Regions from separate parts of the Homo sapiens genome. Here regions 2, 3, 4 and 5 are each linked to region 1. Evidence: fine-mapped QTL for protein levels in blood plasma. A gene starts in region 1. Each other region holds a variant in brackets. All regions are shown on one strand. Distances are between the middles of the regions.

Region 1 (5,804 bases):
TGTCCAGGAGTCTGACACGCCATAGGACCCCTGTGGCTGGATGGAGCTCTCCCTGCCCCACGCACCCATCAGAGGAGGTCTGGGCGTGCCAATAGATCCCTGGAGCAGGGTAAGTGGTGGTGACAGCATGCCTGGCAGAGTAGAAAGCTGCCTCCCCCCATGCTTGAGACCTTATTTTGGGACTTTTGTGTCCGGGGTTCTTATAAACTCAGAGACCCAGAGGGTCTGTTGGGGCTCCAACAGAAAATACTCTCCTGCCACAGTGAGGCGAGATGTCGACCTTAGTGTGCTCAAGGTCCCATAAAGACTTTTCCTCTTTCTTTTCCCTTTTCTCCCCTTTTCTCTCCACACCTCTCCACATTCCAGGGCTCTGCAGAGGCTCACATCCATGGTGTCTCAGTGCTCCCAGGATATGGTGAGACCTCAATGGGGAAGGGTATCGGATGTTGCCAGATCCCGCGGGTGCCAGGGAGTGGGGTACTGGCAGCACAGTCAGGCTCCACTGCTGTGTCCCCACAGCAGTCCCTGAGACCTCCCTTTCCTTTCTCTACCCTGTCCTGCAGCTAGTGGAGGCTGTCACGAGCTGGCAGCATCCCCACAGCTGAGGTCCAGTTAGCCACACACCAGGCTGCTATGCGGTCTGAAAAAGCCCATGCCCTGTTGCCTGCAAGTTCTCAAGTGTGTAGAGTGGAGGAGCTCTGCCAAACTCAGACTCACTGCCAACCACCCTTTCCAGCCTTGACCTGCTCTGAGTTCCTGTGCCTCTCCCAGGACAGGCTTGAAAAATCACTTTGTGAGGTTTCTTTCAGAAACCTCAAAGTGCAAACGGATTTATTTTTAATGGAACATGCTTAAAAGATTAGCAGGGCTGGCAGGTGCTCGTTAAAGGAGCCCACTCTTCGCTCTGTGTGAAGGAGGAGCATGAAAGTAAAGCCCACTCTGCTGATGGGAAGTGGCCCAGAGATCTCACAGAGTGGATGTGCCTGGGGTGTGCCCCCTCATCCCCTACTCTGTGGAGAGGTTCTAACCAATGTGCTCCAGGGGAACTTCAGCCCACCGAGGTCTGTCTACAGGCAGTGGCCCCGCAGCACTCCCCACACCTCCCCATACCTCTCTGTCCAGCTCTTCAACCAGGGTGATGTTTCCAAAAGTGGGGTCAACAGAAAAGACGCTTCTAGTGCTGGGGTCAAAGCTGATGTGGTAGGAGATGGGGTCTCCCTCAGGGTCTGTCCCATTCAGGGTGTATACGTGAGAGCCTGGAAGGAAACACAGTGGAGAGACATAGAATCTGAGACCCAACTTTTCCTAAAAGTGGCAGATGCTCAGGACCAACGATTCAGCTGTTTATAAAGTGACTATTCAACTCAGTGCCAAAGGTACTGCCCTGAACTTGGTGCTCATTGCTGGCCTCACCCCTGCTGGCTGCTTCCCTCTTTGTATGTTTATTCTTCACAGCGGGTGGTTGTGATGATCAGCCACTTTCCAGATTGTAATCTATAACACGGGTTACAGAGCAGGTGCAGGTCTGCCGTGCCTAACTGTAGTGCCTATGTTCTGCTCAGCCTGGTAATAACTCCTCTCTCAGGATCCAAGATTGAGGGGCTCCTGGGTACAGGGAAGGGGAAATGGGAGCAGCCATTAAGGCAGGAGGGGTGACCCACAGTGCACCACTGTCCCCGATGCCTGGACCTGGTTCTGCAGGGATTTCTGAGCCAGGTGCCTACTTTGCTCTGCTCTCCCTTTTCCCCGGGTTCCCACTACCCACAAAGTGAGGGAGAAGGAGTGTGAAATCTCCCCTTTCTCCTCCCCTCTCTCTGCATATCTCAGCAAGTTGGATGTTCTTAGGCCGTTTTAAAGCCTAGAGACCTGGGGCTCAGGGAGGTAAATACATTTGTTCAAGGTCACACAGCCATAAGGGGCAGCTGTAGCTGCCTGCCTCGCGGGGCGACCCTGTCTGTGGGGGGGAGCCCTGGTCTCCAGGACTGGCCAGACTTAAGTCGCCATGGCAGCAATGACCTTCTTTCCTGCCATTGCCCAGGGGAATTCGGAGAGCAAACAAGGAGCCCCCGGGCGCGCGCAGCAACTTGGGTGGTGCCTGGGGCACTTTGTGTTCTAAGTCTGCCTGCACCCCTCAGGGAGACCTATCGGGAGCAGGTGCCAGGGCTACTCACCTACAGGGGTGTCCTCTGGGAGGCTGAACAGAGCCATGTTTCCGTTGGTGCTGCCGACCCCGTTGTCGAAGAAGTGCGGGGCGAAGTTGGCCTGAGCTGGAAAAAGAACACAGAACAGACGGACACCCAGGCAAAGGACACCCAGACACCAGGAGGGAGCTTCGCACCAGCGCGGTCCCGCGTCAGGCCCAGCTACTGGGCAGGAGGGCGCTCCGCCTCCCCAACCCAAGTGCACCGAGGGACCCCACTGGGGCGCCGCCCAGAGGATGCCCCTGACCCCCACTCCGCCCCCGGTGGGCTCGGGCTTGTCAGGGACACGTAGCATGTGGGCGCTTAGAACCCAGGTAGCAATCCAACCCCTCCTTCATCAATGGGCAGATTGCACCCGCGCTCGGAGAGGGGCAGTGCCCCAGCCCAGCCAAGGTCAAGCCGCGAGTCAGGGCACTATCTCCTGCCCCACGCAGCATCGGAGCTGCCACCAAGCCTACAGCTCTGGTTCCCAGCAAGCGGAGAGCAGCGGGGGTCCGGGCGCCAAACCCTGGGGCCCTAGGATGCCAGCTCTGGAGAAGCGCCCCGGAGCTCCCCACTACTCCGCTACCCCACTCCCCACTACCGAATGGGCCAGGAAGATGGAAGGACTTCTCCGCTCCCGTCCACCAGCCCGAGTCCCACTCTGGAAGTGGTCCAGGACCATGTCCCTCTGGCCACCTGGGTGACGCCAGCGCCCATCTCCCTCGCCATCCACGCGGCCAGCGCGGCCCAGCGGCCACTCACCCAAGCAGAGGCGCAGCAGCCCCAGGGCCAGGGCGGCCCACCGGCAGCGCCTCATGTCTCCGCCGGCGCGGAGTGTCGCCTGCCGCCGCCGAGACCGGGCGCAGGGGCACGGAGCATGCCCTGGGCCCGCGGGGAGGGCAGAGACCACAATGGGGGTAGCGGCGACTGCAGCCGCGGCGGGAGGGGGCACGGGGCGGGAGCGGCGGGTGGCGTGAGGGCGCTAAGAGGATGACACGGCTCGGATCTGCTCCTGCCGGCCGCCTGACGAGACCAATTAGCGGCGCAGAGCGGAGCGACAGGCTCCCAGCCGCGGGCGGGGGCAGGAGGGCGTGACAAGAGGACTCCCCGCCCGCCACGCCCCCTTTGCCGGCGGCCCCCAGTCCTGGACAGGAGGACACCATGGGGGACAGGAGTGTCTTTCCCCCAAGTTGTCCTGAGGCTTTCCCAGGGTACTTAAGTCCTGGTGGGGCTTGGGCTTCGCAGTTTTCTTTTCTCATCAACTTCCTCTGTGACTTTCAGGGGCTTAGCTGTCTTCTCTGAGCTAAGCATTCCAGAAGAAAAGTTAGTGGAGCGGCCGAGAGGGCCTTGCCTTAGCAGTCTAAGCAGGTTCTATAAGCCGCGTGAGACCAAAGGCAAAGAGAAAGGGTGATGGATGGGCAGCAGATGGTAAGGGGTTATCAGGACCCCCTCTCTGTGATCTCAACCCATTCCTGCCCTGTTCCCCAGGCTGGACCACCTCTCCCAAAGGGTCTGATCTGTGTGGTGGGCAGCAGGGAGGACCCTCAGGTGTCCACCAGGGTGAGAGGCAGTTCTGCTCCCCATTCCCAGTCAGTGCCCAGTCTGGGACCATGAAGGGGCAGCTGACCCACTCTTCAAACCTTCCAAGGAAGAGTGAAGGGCCTGAAGGCAGAGTTAAGCCCCATCTTAGGACAGACTTGCACAGAGCTGGCCAAGATAGATCTGAACTGCCCGAGAGGCACGAGATCTCATTCCTAGAGGGTATTTACACAAAGCAAGGCACTGCTATTGGGGTCCTGGATGCTGATAACTTGAAGACACAGGTAAGCCCAGGAACCTTTTTGGCTGCTGGTAAAGCTCCTTGGGCTTCCTCGTTCTCCTGCTCTGACACTGGAGGGTGCTTGGAAATGCAGCCTGTTTTCCTTTTCCTGGTTGGGCCATTTATGGGGGTACAGGTCACTTCAAGCCCAAGCCAGGCCACTTCCCAGGATGCCCTTGGGTGGATGTGTTCTCAGATAGAGGAGATCCCTCCTCTGTGTGCTCCTGGGAGAGGTCTCCACAGCTGAGGACTCAGCATTCCCCCCCTCCCCCTGCCAGGGGCCTTTGAGGGAACAGAGCACCCCCCATCCCTTGGTCTAGCCCTACATGATCTACTGTGAGCAAGGGTCAGGGATTTGCAGAGAAGAAGGAAGATGAATCAATGGTTTTAGAATGTGCAGCAGTTTTCAGGCCTAATTGGCCGAAACCCTTGTTGAGTCTCCTTAGGCTTGGCTCTTTTGCTGAAAAGACACACTTTAAATTGCACAGATGTTCTGAATCTGCCTCCCAAAGTGCTGGGACAAAGCTAAGGCAAGTATTCTGCAAGTCCCATATAGGGATGTGGAGACTGAGTCTTGCCGTGGATTTCCCAGGAGCCAGAGGCAGAGCCAAGGTTTCCTGGAGTAGATGTCTTGGTGGGCCGAGAAAAGCCAGCTCTCCCTGGGTCCTGTTAGCCCTGCTCCTCACCAATCTAGGGCCGTTGATTTCTCTCTCCTCAGTTCCCTCAGTCAACAGCCATGCACTGGAGAGGGAAGGGGAAGGAGTAGCCTACATGCCATGTGCTGTATGTGTGCTTATGTATATTTGCCCATATTATCTTATTTGACCTGCACTGCTCTCCCAATGTGATTTTCTCTGCTTTGCAGAGGAGGGAGATTTCCTCATTGGCTGTGTACGACCAAGCAAGTGACTTATTCTCTCTGAGGTGCAGAGCTTGGATTCACATACAGTTTGGGTTGGCTCCAAAGAAGGTTCAAACTCTTTTTTTTTTTGAGCTGGAGTCTCACTCGGTCACCCAGGCTGGAGTGCAATGGCGGATCTCAGCTCACTGCAACCTCTGTCTCCTAGGTTCAAGTGATTCTCCTGCCTCAGCCTTTCAAATATTGGCATTACAGGTGCACGCCACCATGCCCAGCAAATTTTTTTTCTTTTTTTTTTTTTTGGTAGAGACGGGGTTTCACCATGTTGGCCAGGCTAGTCTTGAACTCCTGACCTCAGGTGATCCACCCATCTTGGCCTCCCAAAGTGCTGGGATTACAGGCATGAGCCACTGTGCCCGCCTGGTTCAAACCCTTTTCATGGCAGAAGAAGATGATCTTGAATCTACTGAAGCTTCAGCTTCTAGGCCTCTCACTCACACATCACACATTCCTTCCAGAGCCCCAGTTTTGTATTTTACTTTGTATTTTCTTCTTCTTTCTTTTTAGAGATAGGGTGTTATTATGTTGCCCAGGCTGGCCCTGAACTCTAGGGATCAAAAGACTCTCCTGCCTCAGCCTCCTGAGCAGCTGAGAATACAGGCAGCACCATTACATCTGACTTCTATTCTGATGTAGAAGGGTCTGAGAAAGACCCTCCACACCCCCCACTCCAACTCCTGCTGCTTCCTTCAGCTGTTTTAGGTTCAGATCTGCTAGTGTAACCAGCTGCCCAAATTTGCCTGGGACTGAGGGGTTTCCAGGGATGCAGGACTTTCAATGCTAAAACCAGCAAAGCCTAAGGTAACCTGGTATTTGGCGGTCACCCTAGATACAACCCTGTCCTCAAATCACCTAAGGACCTGGGAAAACAGCAGCTCTTTAT
Region 2 (6,415 bases), 520 kb before region 1:
CCGGCCTGGGCGACAGAGCGAGACTCCGTCTCAAAAAAAAAAAAAAAAAAAAGAAACTATATTATGCTTACACACACTGTGAATCTCTAAAGGAAGGGGTGTTATGGCCTGCATGTAAAAGCTTCATTTTCAAAAGAAATGAGCCTGAGGCAGAAGATTTCTGCACTATTTAGGAAGACTTATGTGCCTTGTTAGGAAGTACAATCCCAAGGAGCATGACAGGGACAAGGCGGGGGAAGCAGAGAGGGAAAATGAGGCTGCACTGCCAAGTTGGCTGCCACTAGGGGGCAGATGCTGGCTCCTGTGTACACCACGTTGCAGGATTGTGTGTAATGCAGGAATCAGGGGGAAATGTATCCAACAACCTGTGGGAACCAGAGAAGAGACCCATGGTGACAGCAGGCAGCATCAGGTACAGGTGCATGCTTGAGGTGAGGTGCTGTTGGGTTGCACCTGCCTGCAGTCAAAACCCATGCAGAGCTTTTGGCCAGCGATGCAGCTCCAATAAGCAAGGGTAGGGAAGAAAACATCCAATGTTGTGCAAATGCGTTCTGATACCAAGAAACACAGAATGCTGGGCTTCCTAGAGCTACTGACTATAGAGTCATCTTTCCCATGAATAGACAACATGTCAAAGGGCACTTACAATCCGCACAATGGTCTAAGATTTACCAGGCTGCACTTCCCCACTTCCCCGTATAACCCACATCCTGAAACCTGCCCTTCTTTTTCTCATACCACCATTGACCCATCCCTAACCAGCCACTAACCTCCCTCTCTCTTTACAGTCACAGTTATGTTTCTCTTAGCAAGGGTCAGAAAATATAGCCCATGGGCCTAAGTTAGACCAGCACCCTTTTTCTCATACCATCACTGACCCATCCCAAAACCCCTCCAACCCTGTGACCTCTTCTCAACATCAACCTCCCGCCAGGAGAGCAACTGAGCACAATGGAAATAATACACAACTTGGGATCAGAAACCCATGTTTGAAAACTGGCTCTCCACTAACCAGCTGGGGAAGCGCCATCACATTACTCAATTTCTACCAACTTCAGTTTCTTCAACTCAAAAAGGGACTGACAGCACAGGATGATATGAGGAATTACGAAGTAACTCATGTAAAGGGTTACCCACAATAGTTACACATGACATTGTAGCTATTCTTTTTTTATTATTATTACTGCATCTTTTGACATTGTTGGCCTTGCATTTTCAAGAACTTCTCTCATCCCCCAGTTTCCCTGCTGTCCCTCAAATTCTTCCTTACCTCTTCTATTTTTCTAAGTCACATTCTGCTATGAGCTGAATTGGGTCCCCCCTCCCCTAATATGAGTTAGGGGAGGGGGTACACAATTCAAGTCCCAACCTCCAATGTGATTGTGTTTGAAGATAGCAACTTTATGGAGATAGTCAAGGTTAAATGAGGTAATAAGGGTGGGGCCCTGATCAGATGCGGTTAGTGTTCCTATGAGAAGAGACACCAGAGAGCTCTTTCTCTCCCACTTTCTCTTTCTTCCTGCTTCTCCCTCCATCTCCTTGTTTGCACACAACAAAAACAGGCCACATGATGATGCAATGAGAAGGTGGCCATCTGCAAGCCAAGAAAAGAGTCCTCAACAGAGCCTGACCCTGTGGACCTTGATTTTTGGACTTTCAGCCTCCAGAGCTGTGAAACAAGACACTCTTGTTGTTTATGCTGCTGTCCAGTATTTGGTATTTTGTTATGGCAGCCCAAGCAGAGTAATACACCTTCCCTCTCTCCTCTTCCTCTTTCTACTTTGAAATGGAGAAGTTCATCAAGGTACTAATGCCCTAGACTTCATTCCCAATCTCCCCTCCAATTCTAATCTCATTCCCGCCATTGACTTCACCTGTCACTCACAAATCCATATCTCCAACTCTGACCTCTCCTATGAACACCTGGAACCAAATTTTCAAAATCTCTGTTTGACATCACCACTTGAGTATCCCACAGGCACAGCAAACTCATAACATCTAAAACTGAACTCATCGTACTCTCCCTGAGAGCCCTTCAATACCTTTTTCTGTCTGTCAAAACCTTTGTACAACAAGAAAAGACATAAAGAGAAGTGGATAGTTGAATAGAAGGATGAAAAGATAAACAGGCATATAAAATTAAAGCCATCATTTGAGCACTTAACCTATGTGTCATATACTGTGCAAAAATATTTACATGCATCAGTTTGTTTTATTTGTATAATCTCTCCTGTTTTACAGATAAGGAAACTGAAGAAAGGGTATCTTAGTCCATTCTTGCACTGCTATAAAGAAATTCCTGAAACTGGGTAATTGATAAAGATAATAGTTTTAATTGGCTCATGGTTCCATAGGCTGTATGGGAAGCATGGCTGAGGATGCCTTAGGAAACTTA[T/C]AATCACGGCAGAAGGGAAAGGGGAAGGAGGCACATCTTACACATAGCTGGAGCTGGAGGAAGAGAGCAAAGTGAGAGCAAAGCGAGAGGTGCTACAAACTTTTAAACTGCCAGATTTCATGAGAGCTCACTCACTATCACCAGAACAGCAAGGGAGAATCTGCCCCCATGATCCAATCACCTCCCACCAGGCCCCTCCTTCAACACTGGGGATTACAACTGGACATGACATACAAGCAAGGACACAGAGCAAAACCATATCAAAGGGTAAAGCAACTTTCCAAGAGTCACAGGGTCTGTAAGTGATGAAACTAAGTTTGCAAACCAGGCAATCAAACTCCAGAATGAGGCTTCAACCAGGTAACTAGCTTTTGCTCAGCCAACCTTCTCTCTTCTCTCAGGATAACCTCTTTGCCACCATGCCTATCTAGGCTCCTGATATGCAGAAAATAGCAACACATGTTCACTGTACTTCACTCCCTGCTCTCCCTCTTCTCCCTCTCTCCCACATCATCCCCCCTTTGCCAACACTATTTCTATAGCCTAGAACATTCGTACTTTCCCGTGAGAACTGATGCATGTGTCACAGTGTGTATGAAGCTTTGCCTCATCCCTACAGGCAAAATTCATCACTCTTTCCCTGTGCTTCTTCCAGCACATTTTATTTTCACTGCTATCAAAGAACCTATTTCTTAGTATGATACTGAGCTATGTGTTTGTCTTCCCTGCTGGATCACTAGCTTCTGGACAGCAGGACTTGACTAGTTCATCTCTGTGTGCTGCATGTGTTAAGAGAGCACCTGCCACTGAGTAGAAGGTCAGTAAGTGGCTGTAACTGAGGTTGAATTCAGCACAAAACCTGCCAAGACATTAGTTTTTTGGACGAGTGGGATGAGAAGAAGCCTGACAGCTGGCAAGGACCTATGCCTGTGTCCAGGAAACAAAGGGACCACACATGGGAAACCTCCACCAGAGGGAAAAATTGCAAACATGGGGTGCACTATATACTAAGTAATCTCACAGACTCATAAAATCAAACATGCCAGGGGCAGAAGGATGCCAGATGCACGGGCCAGCTTATTCCTTAAGGAAAAGAGGATACTGCCAATGAGGAAGCTAAAGCCACAGAGGTTAATATTCTTCACAAGATTTGGTAGCTCATTAATGTGTATGTGGAGATTGGGTGGTTGAGGAGTCATTTTCTGCTTAAGAAACATGAACACATCCCCAAAATGTCCAAATTACAGAGACACACGTGTGAATTCCTCAGAGACATAAGAATATGTATCAGGGCCGGGCGCGGTGGCTCACGCCTGTAATCCCAGCACTTTGGGAGGCCAAGGCAGGCGGATCATGAGGTCAGGAGATCGAGATCATCCTGGCTAACACGGTGAAACTCTGTCTCTATTAAAAATACAAAAAAATTAGCTGGGCGTGGCGGCGGGCGCCCGTAGTCCCAGCTACTCGGGACGCTGAGGCAGGAGAATGGCGTGAACCGGAGAGGCGGAGCTTGCAGTGAGCCAAGATCGCGCCACAGCACTCCAGCCTGGGTGACAGAGCAAGATTCCGTCTCAAAAAAAAAGAAGAAGAATATGTATCAGAGCATATGAAACAGAATAAGTTGTATCCACAAATTTAAGAGTGCAAGAAACATTCATTTCTCCATAACCTGTGATTCAAATTAAATCTGTCTTCACACCAGGGTGGTGGAAACTTCCATCCCAAGATTTTAAGGTAAAGATGGCAGATTGAGCACATGCATCTAAAGCACCCTCTCTCGTAATCCCACTGAAACTACAGCAAGGAGATTTTGTTTAAAAAGAATAAACTCAAAAGGCAGGGAGACGAAGAGAGAAGACAACATCCCCCTGATATTGGAGGCTGGAAAGCAGATGGGTGAATGGTAACTGACTTGGCAGTTCTAAGCCAACAGTAGGGAGAGCCAAGAAACAATCCAAAGAAGAATGCAGAATCCTCAAAAGGCTTCAGAGTTGGCAGCACCAGGTGTCACCTCTGGAAGTGGGGTAGAATGGAGGAGGTAGCTAAGAAAAGGAGGATCATTTGAAAGCTGTGTAACTGTCAGATCTGGAGCTGACTGTGTGGTATTGTCAAGATGATACAATAAGGAGCCCAATTCCAGCTGGCCATTTACTGGCTAAGTAGTGTTGGGCAAGTTACTTTACCACTCTGTGCTTTAGTTCTTGTATCTGAGAAATGGGATTTTAACATTTCTCTCTTTGTAAGTTAAGATTTGTTAAGAATGTATACTCATGCCTGGTACCTAATAAATTCTTAAAAAAAAAAAAAAAATAGATCCCCACTCCCAATTACAAACCATTGGGAAATTGCTTCTTCCCTATCTCAGCTGGTCTGAAGAATTATTATCTGGGGAGAATAAAAAAGATTGTCTGTGAATAGGAAACACCATGCACACTTAAGGGCAGAGTAGCACAAGGGAAACAGATGTATTAAGGAAACTTGCATACTAAACATTCACCACCTTCTTTCTTCCTGGACTCCAGAACACTAGTGACCAGCCACACCTTCCCTGCAGAAGTTTAGAAGAGCCTTTTCTGGAGAACCCAACCAGCCCAAAGGAAGACACTGATGACACCAATCCCAGAGGTTCCCAGGTAAATATTTCAAGCTGATCCTTCTACAATGAAGCTCACAGTCCAGAAGTACATCAAATAATTCATAGCATGTGATTATCTCTTAAGTCACTTGACTCTTAAGCCTGAGCAAACAACCAAGGACTACCAGACGTGTGAAGACAGCCTCTAACATGGAATGCAGAGAACTAAGTGACAAGCAAACAGAAAGGAACCACTGGCAGAAAAGGAAAAGACATTGCATCCATCTTTGAAAAAAATAAGACAGGAGAAGAAGAAGGAAGAAGAAGAAGAAGAGGAAGAAGAAGAAGAATGAGGGAAGAAAAAGAAGAGGAAGAAGAAGAGGAGGAGGAGGAGGAGGGGGAGATTAGAAAACAAAAGACAACTCTTAGAAATGGGAAACATAATAGCAGAAACAAAGAAACTGGACTCATTTCCCATTTAGAAAAAAAAAAGTGCAGCTAGCTGCCAGTGCAGTTTTCTCAGGGCAAATGGGAAATGAGGTAATAGAAACTTTAGAAGATAACTTTTTTAAATCACAGAAATTAAAAAGAAAAGAGATGAAAAATATCATTTTAATTTAAAAAGATAAAATTACTAGGTCATGAGGTCTAACATCCAAACAATGTAATTTCCAGAAAGACAAATGACAGACAAATTACTAGCAAAATAATTCAGGCAAATTTTTAAGAACTAAAGGACAAGAATTTCAGATAGAAAGCATTTACCAAATGCCCAAGGAAATGGATAATGATAGAAACACCTCTATATTCAGCATAATAAAATTTTAGAGAAGTTCGAACAAATAGACAATTCTAAAACATTTCAGAAAGAAATAGCAGGTCACACACAAAGGGTTAGGAAGCAGATGAGTTTGGAATTTTTACAAGCGGTACAAGAAGCTAGAAGCAATAGGATGATACCTTCAGATCTTGAAAGAAATTTTTTTTCAACTTCTACCAGAGCTTATACTCAGAAAAACTATCAACCAAATATAAGGGTAGGATAAAAGTTGTTTTAAGATATGTAAGTTCTCAAATACCTTCCCTTCTTAGTAAACTACTGGAGGATGCACCCCCACCAGGGTGAGGTCAAGCTTGTAATTCATAAGATATCAGTAGAGTACACAGAAGAATTTTACCTCAGCGGTGGGAACAATTAGCCCTAGAATAAATTCCGATCTGTCTGGTCCTACCTAACAAAGATTGAAAGCAAGAACCAAAGGAATCAAACTACTTCCAAGTAATTTAACTACATCCCTGAAAAACCTTAGGACATTTATAGGGACACAAAAATACCTGGTTTCAACAGATAAAATCTATAATTCCCGACATCTAATCAAAAATTAGCAAGCATTTAAAGAAGTAGAAAAACATAACCCAAAATGAGCAGAAAACTCAACTGAAAA
Region 3 (6,415 bases), 530 kb before region 1:
GGTAATTAAAAATTAATATTTTTCAAACATGAATGGATAAACAAACTATTATACATTCATACAATAGAATCTGATTCAATAATAAAAATGAACTATCAAATCACAAAATGGCATGGAGGAATCTTAAATGCATATTGCTTAGTGAAAGAATCAGTCTGAAAAGACTATATATTATACATTTCCAACTATATGGCATTCTGGAAAAGGCAAAACCTATAGGCACTGAGAAGATCAGTAAATACCAGGGATTGTCGAAAAGAGGGAGAGGGATGAATAGGTAGAGCACAGGGAATTTTTAGGACTCTGAAACTATCCTGTATGACACTGTCATGGTGGATGCATGACATTACGTATTTGTCAAAACCTATAGAATGTACAACACAAAGTGAACCCTAATATAACCCATAGGCTTTATTTAAGAATAATGTATCAATATTGGCTAATCATTTGTAACAGATGTATCACTGTAATGCAAGATGCTAATACCAGGGGAAACTGTGAGGTGGGATGGGAGTATATGGAACCTCTTTGTATTATTTGCTCAATTTTCTATATACTTAAAAACTGCTTTGAAAAAAATTCTATTAATTAAAAAAGAAAAACATAGACAGTGAGAAAATACTTGCAAATTAGAGATTTGATAAAGAACTGAATCTAGAAAACATAAGGAACTCTCAAAACTCAATAGTAAGAAATTAAATAGCACAGTAAAAAGGGAGGAGGTATTTAAACAGATAAGTCACTAAAATAGATATTCAAATGGCAAATGAAAATATGAAAGGATGCTCAACATTATTCATCATTAGAAAAATTTGAATTAAAGCAACAATAACATCCCACTACACAACCCATTAGGATGGCTAATATTTACCAGAAAGAAAATGACAATACCAAATTCTGGGAAGAATATAAAGCAACTAGAACACATATGCACCATTAGTGGAAATCCAAAATGACACAGCCACTTTAGAAAATGGTTTGGCCATTTCTTTTAAAATGAAACACATTTGATAAACAGCCTTGCAATTTCATCCTTAGATATTTACCCAAGAGAAATGAAAACATATATTCATAGAAAAACTGGTAACAAGGGTTTATAGTGGCTTCATTCATAATCACCAAAACCAGGAAATGCCCAAAAGTCTTTAAAGAGGAAAATGCACAAACAAACAGTGGTTCATTATATAATGGAATGCATCAATTTAATGGAATACAATGCCTACTAAAAAGGATTCATCTATGTCTGATAAACATGACATAGATGAATCTCAAATGTATTATGCTACCTGATTAAAAAAACAAGCTCAAAAGATTATATACAGAGTGATTCCATTTATTACCCTTTTTAAAGTCAAAAATACCTACAGAAAACAGATCGCTGATTGTCAGGATATGGAGGTATGGGGAGAAATTGACTATGAGGTGACAGAAATGTTCTTTATATTGATTTTATTGGGCACAGGATAACTTCTTGAGGTAATAAAAATGTTCCTTATCTTGGTTTTATTGGCGGCTACACAACTGCATGCATTTTTCAAAACTCTTAGAAGTTTAGAAGGAAGAATTTGAATTTAATGTAGACACTTTCCCTTAGTAAATCTGATTTTAAAATATATGCTTAGACAAATCCTGAAGGAGACCACATCTGCTCAACTGGATGGGAAGTCCTCTCTTTACAGGCATTCTCCTGTAGACACACCTCCATGTCTACCATTGTCCACCTTTTGTGCATTGCACTTTGACTTTTCCATACATGTCCAGAGAGCAGCTCCTTCAGGGCTCTAGTGAGCCTCTCTTCCTTAGAAGAAACTTAGGAGAGGAAAGAGAGTGAGATGAACCACAGGCTTCATTGCTAGAGGTGGTATTCAGGTTGCAATTGGTATTCATCATCTCCCTTCTGTACTATCCATTCTAAATTCTTTCTGCCCTCAATGTTGAGGTGATAACTTTGCAGATCAGAATCAATTACAAAACAAGGACTCCCTTCTTGCCTGCTGATTTCTGGACACAGTTAACCCAGTGGGTCCATACAGCGTCCATAAATTTTAGTTCAATTGTACCCTTGCTGGTGAACATGTATCTTTCTGGGGGACAGAGGCCTCTAACTCTGCAAAGCTCAGAGCTGCACATAGAAATCACAAATTCCTCCACTGAGACATTAGCAATGGTGTCATGTAGGGCCTCTCCTGCTTCCACCCCTTGTTTCTCTGACTTATCTGTTGTTCCTGTTGAGGACACAGCATTGCATAAAATTCTCTGTTTCAATGCATGTACCACTTTCTGAAGAATGGTACTCCATCTTTGCAGAGTATTTTTCTTGAACAGTGATTCATCTGTGCCTTCAGCAGGCCATTCCAACAATCTATCAGGATGAAAGCTTCTGAGTGATGATGTATCCAGTACAACTGGTAGATCCCAAGGTCAGTGGTCTACTCCCACACCTCCTTGACTAGAAAGTTGGTTCCCTGGTCAAATGCTGTGTTATATGAAATTCTATCGATAATTATCTAAGGTTTGCGAGTTGGAAAGACGATCCTTAGATATCCACTCTTGAGAGGATAAAACTCCAGCTCTTCCAGAATAGAAGGGAACAATATAGTCAACTTACCACCAAGTGGAAAATGAATCTCTTCAAAGAATACCATCATCCCAGGAGCAGAGCATAGGTTCTCTTGCTGGCAGGTAGGACATCCAGAGGAGAGTTTCTTGACTGGCCATTTTAAATCTTAGTCCATGACACTTTATCTAGCCTCCATGTCTCTGTCATTGTGGCCACTTCATTCTCACAACACAACTCTGACACCAGATGTGTGTGAGTTTTTTCCCATATATTATGGAAGCAATTAATTCTGCAGCAGAACACCAGCTGGGTCCTCTCCAATTCATTACCAATACTATCTACCTGGAGATAGCATCAGATCTCTTAGAGGTTGAGGGATCTTTCCCCAAACTGCCTCCTACTTCCAACACCAATCACAAGCCCGCCCCAAGTTGTTTTACCTGTGCTTCTGACCAACTGACTATAAATCAAGATTCCCATGACTTTCTTAGTATTTGAGTAATTTGCAAGAGCGGCACACAGAACTCAGGGAAGCACTTACACTTACTTGTCTATCATAAAGTGTATTTTAAGGGATAAAAATGAACAGCCAGATGAAGAGATACACAAGGTGAGGTCTGGAAGGGTCCCAAGAAAAGGACCTTTCATCCCAACGGAGTTGACGTGTGAACACTCTCCTGATGCGTGGAGATGTTCTTGTTCACCTTCCTAGAAGCTCCTTGAATTCAGTCCTTTAAAGTTGTTATAGAGGCTTCATTATGCAGGCATGATTAATTGAATCATCATCCATTGGTGGTCAGTTCAGCCTTCAG[C/A]CCCTTTTCTCCTCCCCTGAGGTGAGGATGGTGCTATGAGTTCCAATCCTTTTAGCACATTGTGCATGGCAACCCACCTACAAACCTATGGTTATCTAGGAAATTTGCAAAACTCACCTCATTAACATAAACTCAGATGTGGTTGAAAGAGGTTTGTTAGAAACAGTAAAAGACTATATCTCACCTATATTGCTCTGCAGCTGTTCTGGAGCTGTCTCAAGAACCCAGGAAAAAAGGCAATATTTTAACAAAAGATATTCTTTTTTTTTTTGAGATGAAGTTTTGCTCTCCTTCCTCTGGCTGGAGTGCAATGGTGCAATCTCAGCTCACTGCAATCTCTGCCTCCCCAGTTCAAGCAATTCTTCTCCCTCAGCCTCCCAAGTAGCTGGCATTACAGGGATGCACCACCATGCCTGACTAATTTTGTATTTTTAGTAGAGACAGGGTTCCACCATGTTGGCCAGTTTGGTCGCGAACTCCTGACCTCAGGTGATCCACCTGCCTCGGCCCCCCAAAGTGCTGGGATTACAGGCATGAGCCACCATGCCTGGCAACAAAAGATACTCTTATTTCTCTAATCACCTAGGAAAATATGAGGGTTATAGGAGCTGTAAGCCAGAAACCGCTGATGAAAATCAAAAAATTTATATCTTGATATCACAAAGGTAATTATTAATAGGTAAGAACTTACTACTGCCATTTTGTTCATTGTTTCCTGGTTGTTTTGTAGATCCTTTTTTTCTTTTCTTTTCTTGCTGTCTTTCTTTATGATTAAGTGATTTTCTCTAGGGGTATGCTTGGAATCCTGACATTTTACCTTTTGTCTATCCACTGTAGGTCTTTGCTTTGTGGCTACCATGAGGCTTACAAAAAACATCTGATAGAACAGGCTATTTTAGTCTGATAACAACTTAACTTTCATGGCATAAAAAAAGCTCTGCACTTTTACACCACTCTCCTGAACTTCAAATGTTTGATGATACAATTTACATTTTATGTTGTGTATTTCTTAACAAATTATTGTAGCTATTGTTATTTTTAATTGTTCTGTCTTTTAACCTTCAAACTAAGAGAGAGATGTGACCTGATGACCTTTTAAGAGTCTGGGTACAGCTTGTCTTGCTTTCACTCAGTTTTAAAGTGGCTCTTTTTTCCCCGAATAACACATTCTCACCTACTTCTCAGGATGGTTGGATACCTTTTCTTCAATGATATAACAGAACAAACATGTGAGACTCTTTATCTATTATAATGTTTCTTGTTATTTCTTATCTAAATTATAACTCTATAGTAAATTTTTTTAGTCTTTTCTCAAAGAGAAGCCCCTAAGGGTTTCTCTCTGTTCTTCTACTTAACAGTGGAAATTCATGGAGTTATTCAGGATTTACTGTTTAAGCTATAACGATCCAAAATCAGAACAGAGCCAGAATTAAGTTATGTAATATCTTTCATCACCCTGGTTTTCCTTATCTATTAGTGACCCAGTAATTACCTGGGTTTCAGAAAATTATCTTAAAATAACCAGAAATACTTTATCTCAGAATTATTTTGTATTTCCCCTTTTAGGTGTATAGTAATAATATAATTTGAAGTGTTTTTCTCTCCATTGATCTCAGATATAGAGGAGGAACAAAAGTGCTAAGATATTGATTTGTCTGTCATAATATGTGAAGGGCCCATTACCCTCCTCTTCAGTTCCACTTGCGGTAGAGCTCAGCTCCCCTTTGCCCTCCCTCAGTCACTTTGCCTTCCTCGGGAATGTGCATGTTTCATAAGACCTGGCCCATCCTCAGGACTTTAAACCAAGGCAAGATCAGGATTAGTGCCAGGGGCCACTAATGAAGGCATGATCCCCCACCCAGGAAGGTGTGGAGTCAGCCGGGGTTGGAGGTGACTCAGTGCCTCAGTCTGTTTGGGCTACTATAGCACAAATATCATAAACTGGATCACTTATAAAGCAACACAAATTTTTTCCTCACAGTTCTAGAGGCTGCGAAGTCCAGGATCAAAGTGCCAGCAGATTCAGCATCTAGCAAGAGCCTGCTTCCTGGTTTATTAACGGCATCTCATTGTGTTCTCAAATGGCAGAAGGGGCAAAGCAGCTGAGATCTCTTTTCTAGGGGCACTAATATTCTCTAGTGCTCTTTTATAAGGGCACTAATCCTATTGATAATGGCATTGCCCTTGTGACTAATTACTTCCCACATTGGTGACTAGGTTTCAACATATTAATTTTGAGGTGATACAAACATACAGAACATAGCACTCAGAAATCCAACCTGCCCCTTCTCTAGGGAACACCAGTCCTAAAATTTCACAATAGTGACTTTAGAAAGATTAATGCTGTTTCCACTGGCTCCCAACGTTTAACCTTGGATTCTCAAGAGTTTCTATAGGAATGCTTTGGCATTGATTGCCCCTAACCCAATTGACTGTACATTGCAGAGGAACCACCTCCTTGCTTTCTGGGGCATTCCCAGCCTAAGAGCCTCATTCAGGAATAGGAGGAAACAGTCCAGTATGCTCCACACTTCTGGGCATATTTTTTCAAAAATATTGGTTTTTTTTTATTGTCTCCCTTGTGGGCATCAGGGCCGGACATTAACATCCCCCATTGAGCCCCCAGTTAAGGCGGAATGGAGCATGAATGAAAGCTTGGGGGTGCTAAACATTCTGCTGAGTGCATCACTAACATTTTCACACTTACTCCTCACAATGACTCTGTGAGGCAGATTATCCCTAATTTATAAATGAACAAAGGCTTAGCATAATGATCGTAAATTCATTCATGAGTGACAGAGCAGCAATCCAAGCATGGGCACAACTAACCCGAAATCCATGCCTTTGCATTTATCAGCCAATAAGTATTTATATTTCTTTCTAAGGCCAGACATCGTTAGAATAATAATAAACCAGATGAACCTAGTGCCTGCACTGGCCTCAGGAAGTCCGCTGGAGAAGGTAGAAAAAAGAGGAAAGGCATAATTTTGATATGAGGACAGGTGGAGCCCAAGGAAGTTGGCTTTCAAGTTGGATTTTAAAA
Region 4 (6,415 bases), 36 kb after region 1:
GTTTACGTTGTTTATTGTCTCCTTGTACCCTGGGTTGATCTGTCCACCATAGCATTGGTGGTAGGGCTACCCTGCCTCACTATGGCAGCAGCTAGCAGGCCTGCAGACTCCTCCGCAGGGAATGTGCTGAAATGTCATGATCTCCACTATGCCACAAAGATGAGACTAAAAGGCAATGTCTTTCATTCTCCCATGGCCACTCTAGGTTGGTGTTGAAGCATGTGTGAAACCAGTCCCTGGGCTCTTGATAAGCATACCCCCTTCATGTTTGGCCTTGCTCTCTCTCTCTCTGGAGTTTCTGTCTTTTGCCCCCACCCCTTCATACCCAGCCCAAGTTTCAGCCTAAAGTAGGGGACTCAGGACCCTTGTATTTGGTGTCTTTCTACCTCCCCTACACTTGTTAAAATAGCACAGGCTTTACAGCCACATGATCCATGCTCTAACCAGCGCTCTCCTATGTTTTAGCTGTGTGACCTGCACAAGTTGCTCAACTTCTCTGTGCCTTTGTTATTTTCGATGTAAAATAGTAGGTGCAGCTGGAGAGGAACAGATTCACTGGATGAGAGTGTAATGTTAAAAGCGCCATGCAATATGAACATAATTTTTTATTATTTTAGGTGGCCAATTTTCAGAAATGGGGTACATAGCTTTCCCTTCCTTTCTCAATTTTTCTTACCCCCCACGTTTATTATAATTGAGTATTACAATAGTTAAGGATAAAAGGCTTTTACTTTTTTGAGACAGGTTCTCCTCTGGCTATGCTGCTCATGCTGCAGTACTGTGCCTATTCACAGGTGCAATAATATTATGTGCCCTACAGCCTCAAACTTGTAAACCAAAAGTAAATTCTAAGCCCCATCCCCAACCAATTGAGTGGACTCCTCCTCTGGGCCAAGGGCATTCTAAAGTAAACCTAAAACGCTAGTTCAGGCATGATGGGAATGGGTGGGAAGACAGGCCTCATTACCCCCTCCTCCCGTTGGAATTCAGGCACAGCTGACCAGCATTAACGTTAAAATAGAGACCTGAAGACTCTTTGTAGCAATATTACAGCTAGCAGGCCCTGAAAGAAATACGTATTTTACCTCCAAAATGTATTTCTTTGACATATTCTGAAATGGCCCTGCAAAGCTGTCTCGAGGGGAAAATCAACATTCTGTAGAGTTGATTTTCATCCTTTTCCAGGTCTTTTTCCAGATCCAGGAGAGAATTAACTAAGAGTCTAGTATCCAGTCTGATAAGAAGCATTTATAATCAATTCTCTCTGAAGCCTGCCACCTGGAGGCTTCATCTGCATAAGAAGAACCTTGGTCTCCACAACCTCTTATCTTAACCCACACAATCCCTTCAATTGATTCTAGATCTTTAGATAAACTTTCAACAAATTGCTATTCAGAAAATCTTTGAATCCACCTATGATCTGGAAGCCCCCCAGCCCTCTGAGTAGTCCCACCTTTCCGTACTGAACCAATATACATCTTACCTGCATTCATCGAAATCTTAAGTCTCCCTAAAATGTACAACACCAAGCTATAGCCCAACCACCTTGAGCACATGTTCTCGTGATCTCCTGGGTTCTGTCATGGGCCATCGTCATGCATAGTTGGCTTAGAATAAAACTCTTCAAATATTTTACAGAGTTGGATTCTTTTCATCAACAAACTCTTGGGCTCAAGTGATCTTCCCACCTTAGCCTCCCAGGCAGCTGGAACTATAGGCACATGCCATTGTACCTAACTACAGATAAAAGAGTTTAGAACACTCAACTAACAAGGCCATTCTGACCCTGAAATTCTAGTGAAATTGAACTTAACGCTGATCCAAAATGTAATACTATTCCCCAGGAATTTTTTTTTTAAACTTCTGGATCTTTTTGGTTAACATCGTAACCACTGGCTTAGATTTCCAGTTTCTGCAGAATTCTCATTTTTAATTTATAATATGATAATGAAGTATATTTTAAAATTAATTTTTTGATAAACTATAATAATATATTATCATGGCAGACACAGTGATGTTATATGTACACAGTGTGGAATCATGGAATCAAACTAATTACCATATCCATCACCATAAATACACATCATTTATAACATCTCCTCATTCCCCCCCACCCACCAGCCCCTGGTAACCACCACTCTACTCTCCGCTTCTATGAGTTTGATTTAGATCCCACATGGAAATGAAAACGTGCATTTTTTGTCTTTCTGTACCTGGCTTATTTCTCTTAACATAAGGTCCTCCAGGTTCATCCTTGTTGTTGCTAGTAACAGAATTTCATTCTTTTTAAAGGCATTTTTTGAGTGGCATTCCATTGTGTATATATAGCACATTTTCCTTATCTATTCATCTGTTAATGGACAGTTAGCTTGATTCCACATCTTGGCCATCATGAATAGTGCTGTGATAAACAGGAGTACAGATATCTCTTCGAGATACTGATTAAATTCCCCTAGAATTTATAGCCAGTAGTGGGACTGCTGATCTTCCTTTCTTTTTCAACAGCAATCTGTCTCCAAAAAATACCCAACCTCCCACTTGTGCTCAAGGATAGCTGATACTGCTTTAATGAGGAACGACTATTTTTCTTGCCACAATTTGAGGCAAAGGAAGCACACACACTGAAATTAAGGTCCAAATGACTGATCCTAGGCTCATATCCAAGTGCAGATTTTGACAGAGAAAGGTGAGAGGACAAACAGAGCAAGTGCGAGGAGGAACTCGGGCAGGAGGGAGGGAGGTTGTGTAGAAAGGAGGATTAGCAGTGCCAAAGCTTTCCTCTTTTGCCGGTGCTTAGAGCTGGAAAACTGCAGGTAGGGCTGAGATGGATCCTGTTTGTCAGCGTCTGTTCTGTACTTTGCAATTTGACAGCAGGCTTCCCAGCAGACATGTGTCACCTTGCCTCCGCATTTTCACCCCCACACCTAGCACACCCAGGAAAGGGCAGGGATGTGGGAGGTG[A/C]AGCTAGGGCCATGTACTCCGGGGTAAACTTCAACCTCACAGAAGGAGCCAGGCTAGGAGGACCCTGAAGGCCCTGGGTTCAGTTCCGCAGGGCGGAGAGACTGCTTTCCTGGGCCATTCCACTAGTTCCCGGATCTGGAAAGCTCCTTGTAAAGTGTTTCCATAATTTTCATTTTCTCCCCATGTGTCCTTTGCCTTTTACAAAATTACTTAAGGGCAGCTATAATGTACTAAAAAAGATACCAAAAGCCCCATTTTCTTATCAAATGCCCATTTTTTTCTGCCACTCAGAATTAATAACAGTGAAAGTCTTGTCATAATTTATCCAACTTCTTTTTAAATAACCGTTCTATTTAAATGAGGAAGGCAATCATGCTTGCATCTTCTGAGAAACAGTGTGGTTAAGGGTGGCGTCATTTGATTGTCACACAGCAGAGTCCTGAAGGACATTTTATAGCTTTTCAAGAATACCCACATTTTTGTCAGGGTCTTGCAGGCAGAGAAGGTTGGGTTCTCTGCAAAGGAGATCAGGAAGTCCCCATGATGCTACACATGCGAGCCAGGCCAGACATTCCCCTTTCCACAAAGTACCAACCCTTCTGGGCTGGTGCGTTTGGACTCAAATGTCCCTATATGCACTCCTCATATTTGCTTCCGTCCTCTGAACTCCGGTGGCAATTAGTCTGAATAAACCTCTTGTAATTTCTGGATAATGATTTTATAATTACCTTGAATCATTGAAGTGTGTTGCTATTTCTTATCATTTAACTACTCTCGTACTACTTTAGAGTGTCTAATAAATGTTGATTTAATCTCTTAAAACAGTGGCTTCTAATGATTAACATTCCCCACCCACAGTAAAGGCTTCTGCCTCCAGCACTGCCTTCTCTCTCTAGAATTAGATCCTCCTAGCAACTACCCACTCCCACTGCTCATTGGATGCTGTCTTCTAGAATGATGGGTTTCCAGCCATTCATCCTTGTGTTTCCCCACAGCTGGTGCTAACAGTTCATTCCCTCAAGGTGTACCAAATGGAATGAACCTATTAAATCCCTAACTCTACTAACAGATCATACCAAACCAGTAACGTGCCCTTTCTTAACTTCCATTTATATTCCTGTTTGGGGGTCATTCTGTGTTGCTGACCTCAGTCCGTTCAGCCTGCATACTTAAAAGTACGTAACTGGGCCTTCTCTCTTCTTCCCCCAACCCCACCATGTGAGGACACAGCAAGAAGGCTGCCATCTACAAGCTAGAAAGTGATCCTTGACTGAGTGTGGTGGCTCATGCCTGTAATCCCAGCACTTCGGTCTCAGAAAAATAAAAGTGATCCTTCACCAAAAACAGAACATGCTGGAACCTTGGACTTGGATTTCTAGCCTCCAGAACTGTAAGAAAATAAATTTTTGTTGCTTAAGCAAAAAAAAAAAAAAAAAAAGAAAAAGAAATCTTCAAAAAAGTACATAACTGGGTGGGGTGAGCTTGTTTGTACTTCAGAAGATCCCCTCTGAATCATAAATAAGTAATAATTAGTTACTGAGGTCATTTATCAAAAGACAATGCTTTAGATATCTGTTCTTACAGGACAGTGAAGTATTAGAAAATCATGGGAAAAAGAAAACCACCGGCAAATATTTTTCCATTTTAAAATGCCACTGACTTTAAGACATGCTAGTTTTGAGAAAAAAAAGAAAAATCCTGAAATAGAATATGCACTTCAGAAATGAAATGCAAAAAAATGCTGTCTCTTAGAAATGAGATAATTCAACTACTAAGCAAATAAAATAAACCTGTAACATTCCTCCAATGAGATGGCCATGGACCTGTTTTCTCTGTTGACTGTGTAAAAACACTCTGGGGACACAGGTGAGAAAATCCATGTCAGGCATATGGAGGGTTAACTTGGAGGAATGATGGCCCACTGACACCATACCTGTGGGTCATCATGCTGCTTTTACAAATTGCCCAGTGGAAAGCATAAATTGAATGTTTAAAAACTACTAAACTTGCGTATACGGTTGTGAGGAAAAACGTCCATTCAGTCCTGCCAGAACACATTAATTTTATCTCGAGTGTAGCCACGGGGATCCTCGCACTTCTACTATCTGTATCCAGTGAGGTTGCAACAACCTCACCATCCATCAAGCTCTCTGTAGAAGGTGGAAGGTTGAGAGAAGTCCCCTGAGGAAGAGTGACATTGCGCTGGGTGACTCAGTCTGACGCAAGCCACAAATGAGGCAGAACAGGATGCTGAGGCTGAGGGGAAGAGCTTGTGCAAGGCCTCCCCTCATGCTAACTGCGCAGCAGCCCATAAGATGCGGGCCATAATGGTCGTTATGATTCTCCTCCCCCACCAGTCTTTTATTTAGGTTCATTTTTGCTTGTGGCAAAAAATACTCTCTTCATGGTTCTCAGATGTTAATGAATTGAATGTTCACCGTCCATCTTCCTGAATTGCTTCACAAAAGAATCTTACTTTAAAGGTGGAAAGTCCTCAAGGTCATAGCTTTCTAATCTATTCCTGAAAAGTCATTTCCATTTTGTGCTAGTTAAAAATGGAATGCATTTAGGATTTCATCTTATTGATGAAATTGACCTTAAAAAATGGTCAATTTTGATTTGTAGCTCGGAGTGAACTGGGCAATACAAAAAAGGACTATTTTGTACCGTAAGAAATAGATGTGAGGAAGGCACGATGATTTCCAGTATCCTTCACTGAGGTCAATTTTTTTTTCACAGAAAACTAAAATGTTCCTGTTCTATTTCCTTTAATTTACTCAGAATACTGATTCCCAAGATTTTAAAAGTGACTTACACTTTAATAGAATCTCAACCTATTTAATTTGTATAGTGCTTTTGTGATTCTCAAGCAAAATTCTACTTCTTCAACTTTTACTTTGGATTCATGGAATACATGTGCAGGTTGTTACTTGTGTATACTGCGTGATGCTGAGGTTTGGAGTACCAATGATCCCATCACCCAGATACCGAGCACAGTGTCCAATAGGTTTTCAACCCTTGCCCCACTCCTTCCTCTAGGAATCCCAGGTATCTATTATTACCATCTTTATGTCCATGAGTAGCCAATGTTTAGTTCCCATTTGTGAGAACATGGGGCATTTGTTTTTTTGTTCCTGGGTTAATTTGTTGTTTGTAACAGGATGATGGCCTCCAGCTAACTCTATAAGGACAAGCTTGCTTTCTTTTATATGGCTGTGTCCTACACGATTTTAGATCTATCATCTATCCTCCCGGCATAATTGGTTAGGGAGTTTGTCTCATTATTCTTCCCAGCCATATGACCTTGTGCAAAGATCAAACTTTGGGCAAAGAGTTCAATTCAAACATCAGCTATTACTAGTGTAGCTGGGCCACCCTACCCCACTGGAATTATATGTCTTGGGTATCACTCAGTTTTAGTACCTTTAACCTGGACACGTTACCCAGATACAAT
Region 5 (6,415 bases), 47 kb before region 1:
GGGCACTGGTCTCTGCCATCCTCACTCTCCCTCACTGCCAGTGGCCCAGCTGTCTCTGGCTTCCCACAGCCAGGCCCTCCCTTTTAAAGGGCCATCCCATGTGCGTGGAGGCACATGCAGGTTATTATGTTGGACCTTGGGCTGTTTCTGGATGCCTCCCCGCTGCAAATGGTCCTCTTGGCCCAAGCAGAAGGAACCCATTCACGAGTTGGACAATGCAGCCTTTGTGAAGCCAGAATGGAGCCCTGTCTCATTCATTTCAGCCCCATTGCACAGGATTAAGGTCGGGGAATCCAAATGGTGTGTGGCTGAGAGCCTAATTGGAAAAGAGTTGCATAACCAGGGGAGGGGAGCAGGAGGAGGGATTTGAGCCGCAGCTGTTCCCAACAAGCCTGGTGCCTGTGTGTGTGTCCTCAGGCTCACATGAGTATACTCCAAAGCGCTGGGGAAAGGATGAGGCTTGGGAAGTCGCCTGCTGTCAGAGGAAGAACCCCATCTGGGACCAGAAAATGGGGTTGGGGTTCTGGTTCTGAATCTGCCACTAACTAGTTATGCGCCTTGGAGTGGGACCACTGGACTCTTCCGTTTACTTTTCTGCAATGTCAATGTCTTTTGTCTGTGGCCTTTATATAAGTCCTGGTTAGATATCACGAATATAAACCTCAGGGCTGCATTTCCTGTCTCCCATAGAGCACCTGAGCATAAAAAATGTCCTAGGACACTGTCTTAGAACAGAGGGGCTGCCTGCCGTCTTGTCAGTCTCCGACCCCGAACCCGCCCAGCCTTGCCGGCCCCACTAAGAGCTTTGGCTGCTACAAATGACTTCTTGATACACTGGCTCTTTATGCACTGTTATGCTCTGGCTCATGATAAAATTTACACCAGGAAATACTGATCTAGGACAACTTAGTTCATTTTCAGATAAAGAAACCAAGCTCCAGAGCACTATCAGCAACATAGCTAATATTGAGTGAGGTCAGGCCCTGTGCTAGGGGATCTTCTGATGAGTCCTACAACAACTCCATGAGTTAGATACCATTATCCTTTCCATTTTAGATGAGGAAACTGTGGCTAAAAACAGTTAAGAATCTGCCTGAGGCCATGCAGTAATTTATGGATGGAGCTGGAACAAAAGCCGATCTCCTATTCCTCAGGCTCAGGCATTTTTCAATGGCATCTTCTGACTCACCTGGTAGAGCAACCCACTCTGTTCCAGGAATGCCCACTTCCCAGGCCTTTCCTCTCATGAGTCCTCACTTACATCCAAGCCTAATCCCTCTGCAGGGCTGAGCTTATGGCTGCGCCCTCCAGAGCGTTCCCTGTTCTTTCTCAATTTCTTTTTTGTTTTTTTGTTTGTTTTTGAGATGGAGTCTCGCTCTGTCGCCCAGGCTGGAGTGCAATGGCGCAATCTCGGCTCACGCAACCTCTACCTCCCCAGTTCAAGCTATTCTCCTGCCTCAGCCTCCCGAGTAGCTGGGATTACAGGCATGTGCCACCATGCTCGGCTAATTTTGTATTTTTATTAGAGACAGGGTTTCTCCATGTTGGTCAGGCTGGTCTTGAACTCCCGACCTCAGGTGATCTGCTGGCCTTGGACTCCCAAAATGCTGGGATAACAGTCATGAGCCACCCTGCCTGGCCTTCTGTCTCAATTTCTACCTTATGGTGTTGGTTAATACATATGTCAGTCCTTTTTTCATGCCTTCGAGATCACAAAAGCCTTCATGAGAGGAGATAAAGCAGGGCAAGGCCAAGATTAAAGGGTAAAGTTCATTTGGGCAAAAGACACAAGGAGGAAGAAGCAGAGATGTGGGAACAGGCAAGCTGACGGCTGGGTTTGGGGAGGTGGAAGTATAGCTGGGAAGCACTGAGAAAATCCTACTGGCTGCATTGGAAGGAAGGAAAGAATGAGAAGCCAGTATTGTTGAAACAGACCTGGCTCCGAGCTAGGCATTTTATGTGTGCACTGGGGCCCCAGATATCTTTGCAGGTCATACCTCACTGGTCTAGGCCTGCCTGGAGCCACAGGCATGAAGGACTGGGGAACCTTCTAGAAAAGCCAAACAACATAGGTAGGGCATGCTGGACCAGAGAACAATGCCTCAGGGTCAAATGTGAAGAATGAATGAATGAGTCGACTGAGTGTCTACTGCTGGGAATCATCCCTGGTCAGTCCCCACTGGCATCTTGAGTAGATATGGTGGGGCGAGATAGGGTTAGGAGAGAATAAGTAAAAATTGAAATTAGTCTGGGTGCAGTGGCTCAGGCCTGTAATCCCAGCACTTTGGGAGACTGAGGTAGGAGGATCGCTTGAGGCCAGGAGTTTGAGACCATCCTGGGCAACATGGCAAGACCCTGACTGCAAAAAATAATTTTTTAAAAATAGCCAAACATGGTGGTGGTTGCCTGCAGTTCCAGCTACTTGCGAGGCTGAGGCAGGAGGATGGCTTGAGCTCAGGAGTTCGGGGCTACAGTGAGCTATGATTACACCATTGCACTCCACTCTGAGTGACAGAGCAACCCTGTCCCTATAAAGCAAAACAAAGCTTTATGGATGGAGAATTTCCAAAGGCCCTTATTAGAGGTTGGGGTCCTGTCTCCAAAAAAACCTGAAAGTGCCTTCTCTAAGACCTCTCTGAGCTACCTCTCTGGGGCCCTCCTTGGAGTAGGGCACCTTGAGGAGAGGGGTGCCCTTGTCCCTTATGTGGAGACATCTCCACCTTTGGCATTCGTAG[C/T]AATGCCCAGAAGGGCTCAGCTGAAATAGTAGTGTGTTGAGTCCATATCCATGGGGCACTCAAGGCAGGCAGCTGTTTGCCTGGCAGCCTGGGACAGTTTGTGGGCTCATGAGAGACACCTCTGATGTCTCCCCAAAATATCTGAATCTGTCCAGTTCTTCTGTAAGTAGGGTCTTATAAGTACCAGTGAAACTGGGCACTTACAACTTGTGAGAGAGCTTCTGTTCCCACAGGCTGTCAAGGCCTTGGAATTTGAGTTTGATTTTCACAAACACCCTGCATGAAGTAACTTTATTTCTCTTTGTCAGATAAGGACACAGAGGCCAAGAGATAATGTGACTCACCCAAGGTCACAGCCCCTTAATGGAGCAGCTGGGATTTGACCCCAGGAAGCCTGGGTCCAGAGCTTAGCCTCCTTCCAATGCCTTTAGCACCATCAGGAAGAGTTGCTTCATTTCACTGCTTTTTTGCTATGAGACAGTGTCACAGGAAAGAATTTCCAAAGGCCCTTACTGAGGCGGGGGTTCTTTCTCCATCTTCCCTGGCACTCCAGTGGGGTCTGTGTTGTCCGTGGCCTTGTTGGGATGGGATGCTTTGCAGATGACAGTCCCATGGCTGCTCGCCTCTGGAAAGCTGCCTACTTGTCTTGCTTTGCTGTGCCCTGCCCTGGCCTCTCTGGGCCTGTGGATATTGCTATGGAAGGGGGTCCCCCGCCCCTACCCTCAGGACTGAGTGATTCAGAAAGCAATAAGCCTCTGAGTGCTGCGGCTGGGACTCCCCTCCCTAATCCCCAGTCTGTCCATGTTTATCCGATGGCCTCAGGAGGGGGTGTAAGGGGCTGGCGAGCAAGTGGGCAGCTGCTGAGCTTGCTGGGCCGGTGGGACGGAGCGGTCCAGGGACAGGCCCCTGCCTGGGCCAGAGAGGAGCCAGGAGCCATGAGGGTGGCATTAGGCATGCTCTGGCTCTTGGCCCTTGCGTGGCCCCCCCAGGCCCGGGGCTTCTGCCCCTCTCAATGCAGCTGCAGCCTCCATATCATGGGTGATGGCAGCAAGGCCAGGTATGGTACCGGGTGCGTGGGACGGGCAGCCCAGCCTCCATTGCTTTGCCAGCTAGGCTGGGTTGGGAGGAGTTGGAGCTGGGGCCCTGGGTGAGGTCTTCATCTCCCTTGGCCCTTGAGGACCAGGGATCCTATGGGGTGGACTGTGCTGCATTGTTTTCCAGCAGGCAAGGGGGTGACTCTATTCGAGAGGTACCAGGTATCTATACACATGGGCCCGAGGGTGAGGCACAAGTATGTCAGTTCTAAGAAGTCCTTCCTAAGTCCTCCTCCAGGCTCCTGGTGAAGAGCCCTCCTTAAAGGTCCAGGAAATCTCCTCCCTTACTGCTTTTTCTTCTCTTTTATTTTTTCTATTCCCTCTTCTTTTCTATATTTCCCCAGCCCCTTCTTTCCCAGGCCACTTGCACTCTCTTGCCTGACCTCTCTACAATATTCAATCATATCCCAGGCATTTCCTACAACCCCACCCATGATGGGACCACTTGCCTCTCATTCTCTTCCTCCTCTCCATCTTCGCTGGCCAGATCCCAGGAGCCTCAGCCTCAATACCTTTTTATGAGTGCTCCAAAAGCCAGGAGTGCCCATCCCATGACAAGCATGCTTCCTTCCATCCCCAGCCTTTTCCTTGACTTTCCCCACCCTCTGTCTGATCCCTCAGAGCACCTCCATTCTCTCCTCCTCTCCTTTCATGGGACATTCCCATGCCACTGTGGCTTGTGGACCCTTGCTCTTCCACTACTGCTCATTTTCTTCTTTTCTTTAGCAACGTTTAAATCATCTTTTCTCCAACTTCTTTAGCTTATCCATTAATGACCTCTGCATGGTTTCTGAGCCACTGATGGTTTCTGATCCTGGGAACAATGTTATTGGAGCTACCCTTTTAATAATCTTGGCAATGAATGTCGAGTTGATTGGGGGATGAGAGGAGAATGGAGAAGAACCACTAAGAAAAGACACCTCAAATGATCTGAGAACCAGAATGAGCTCCACTGTAGCCCAAGTGTCCAAGGCATCAACTCATATGAAGTGTAAGGGTCCTGTCCCCAGTAGAAGCCAGGCTGAGCCCTGAACAGCCTGCTGTTCCCAGCCTGGGCAGTGTCACTGGAGTGACAAAAAGCCTCCCACCACCCGTAGAAGGCATAGGGCTGAAAGCCACACAGCATCATTGACAAAACCGGTCCTGGAACCCAGGCATTCCGATTCAGTTTTCAGAACACTTATCTGGTGATGCTGCCATGGGCAGGGACCAGTGGTAAGTTCCAGGCAGCAGAGTTAATCTTAAGATGGAAAATGAGTTTCTAGGGCCGCTAATGTAAGTCAGTGGGCATTCCCTTCTCTGAAGCCAGAGCTCTTGGTTCTACCCGCCTGACTATCCCATGGCTAACATGCACCAGCCCATCTGCATGGAGGGTCCTATGAGGCCATGAAAGGTGGTAGCGGGCCCTGAGGTCCCCTGTGGCTATGGGCACAGACTGTGCAGTTAGACCAAAGCTCGTTCTGCATGTCAGAAGCCTTCCTCAGATCCCTCTCTAACCTGGGCCTCTCAGAGAGCCCAGCCTTTATGTCTGAGCTGTTGTATCGTGAAGTGTGTGCCTGTGGGCACTGGGGTTGCCTGGGAGGAGCTGGGCTATGCATCTGAATGGATTTGTGCCCATGCTGTTTGTCCCAGTTTGCCTCTGGTTTTACCCCACCCGGAGTTGTGCTGGAGGTTTGAGCTGTGGTGTAGGCTTGCATTGAGTTCTTATGGTTTCCTTTAAATGCCCCTTTTACCGTTTTCTCTCCCGTTCAAGATAAGTTTTCCAATCACCTGTCTTTCTCTCACCTACATCCAGACCTTCCTCCTTGCAATACCCAAACCTGTATTACTTTTTTTGAGACAGGGTCTTGCTCTGTCACCCAGGCTGGAGTGCAGTGGCACAATCATAGCTCACTGTAGCTTCCAACTCCTAGGCTCAAGCCACCTTCCCACCTCAGCCTTCTGAGTAGCTGGGACTACAAGCATGAGCTATCACACCTGCCCGAACCTATTGTAGTATCTGGAAATATCATTGCTGTAAATGCTCTTTCTTCCTGAGCTAGATTACACACTGTATGGAGACAGGGGCTATGAGGCTGATTCTCTTCTGAATTGCTCATCACTTAGTAAGAGTTCCATGTATATTTGCTCAAAAGGAGTGAGTAAGAATATCCGTGCTGTTTGTGGACACTGTTTACAAGAAAAAACAAGCCCAGCCCAGCTGCCTTTAAGTGGAGCATAGACTTATGCTGAGGGATGCTGGTGATATGTGTGTGCACCTCCAGGAAAGCCTGATATCACCAGTAGGTTATGCTATTACAAGAGAACAACCTCCCTTAGAAGGGCCTGTTCAGTGGCTGGGGGGCTTAGGATTTTGTTTTCAGTTTACGTAGTATAAAACATAGCCCTGAAATGTAGGCTTCTTGAGGGCAGGGACTGCCTCCTATTATCTCTCTATCCTCTGCTTTAGTCTCAAACTTAATGGAATAAGGTTTAAGAAGTCGTGGTTTGGGTAGAAGAGCTGATAAGACTGACCCGATCTACTTGCAGTGCTGAGATGCAAACATTGATGACAGTGATCCATACCCTTGGGCTCATGCAGGGTGG

Which allele goes with the higher level. Alleles are on the strand shown, and positions count from the first base shown. The strength of an association depends on the size of the effect and on how common the allele is. Not every link is listed here.
In carriers of allele C in region 2, the plasma level of the protein whose gene starts at base 3,224 in region 1 tends to be higher than with T alone (weak association).
For the plasma level of the protein whose gene starts at base 3,224 in region 1, A is the low allele of the variant in region 3 and C is the other (moderate association).

Evidence for each region. PIP is the chance, under the fine-mapping model, that this variant and not a neighbour inherited with it causes the effect. The UK Biobank Pharma Proteomics Project read protein levels with antibody pairs (Olink). The fine-mapping took linkage between variants from a reference panel, not from the people measured, so its PIPs are less certain.
Region 2: its variant is fine-mapped to the plasma level of the CDHR1 protein (UK Biobank, PIP above 0.99).
Region 3: its variant is fine-mapped to the plasma level of the CDHR1 protein (UK Biobank, PIP above 0.99).
Region 4: its variant is fine-mapped to the plasma level of the CDHR1 protein (UK Biobank, PIP above 0.99).
Region 5: its variant is fine-mapped to the plasma level of the CDHR1 protein (UK Biobank, PIP above 0.99).

What each region holds. Positions count from the first base shown.
Region 1 is chr10:84,191,957-84,197,760 of GRCh38, reverse strand. CDHR1 (cadherin related family member 1) reads right to left here and starts at 3,224. Exons shown (of 17, transcript NM_033100.4): 1 at 2,946-3,224; 2 at 2,172-2,267; 3 at 1,111-1,256. The coding sequence starts at 3,000. RefSeq lists silencers at 3,009-3,128, 3,199-3,328.
Region 2 is chr10:84,709,926-84,716,340 of GRCh38, reverse strand. No RefSeq gene overlaps it. Among named protein-coding and RNA genes, the nearest start is that of CCSER2, 380 kb to the right of the region's middle. The variant T/C (reference allele first, on the strand shown) is at 2,396.
Region 3 is chr10:84,720,231-84,726,645 of GRCh38, reverse strand. No RefSeq gene overlaps it. Among named protein-coding and RNA genes, the nearest start is that of CCSER2, 390 kb to the right of the region's middle. The variant C/A (reference allele first, on the strand shown) is at 3,373.
Region 4 is chr10:84,155,729-84,162,143 of GRCh38, reverse strand. No RefSeq gene overlaps it. Among named protein-coding and RNA genes, the nearest start is that of CERNA2, 13 kb to the left of the region's middle. RefSeq lists enhancers at 1-409, 742-1,243, 6,319-6,415. The variant A/C (reference allele first, on the strand shown) is at 2,962.
Region 5 is chr10:84,238,695-84,245,109 of GRCh38, reverse strand. LRIT1 (leucine rich repeat, Ig-like and transmembrane domains 1) reads left to right here and starts at 3,564. Exons shown (of 4, transcript NM_015613.3): 1 at 3,564-3,792. The coding sequence starts at 3,671. It overlaps RGR (retinal G protein coupled receptor), which reads right to left and starts at 57. Exons shown (of 7, transcript NM_001012720.2): 1 at 1-57. The coding sequence starts at 19. The variant C/T (reference allele first, on the strand shown) is at 2,736.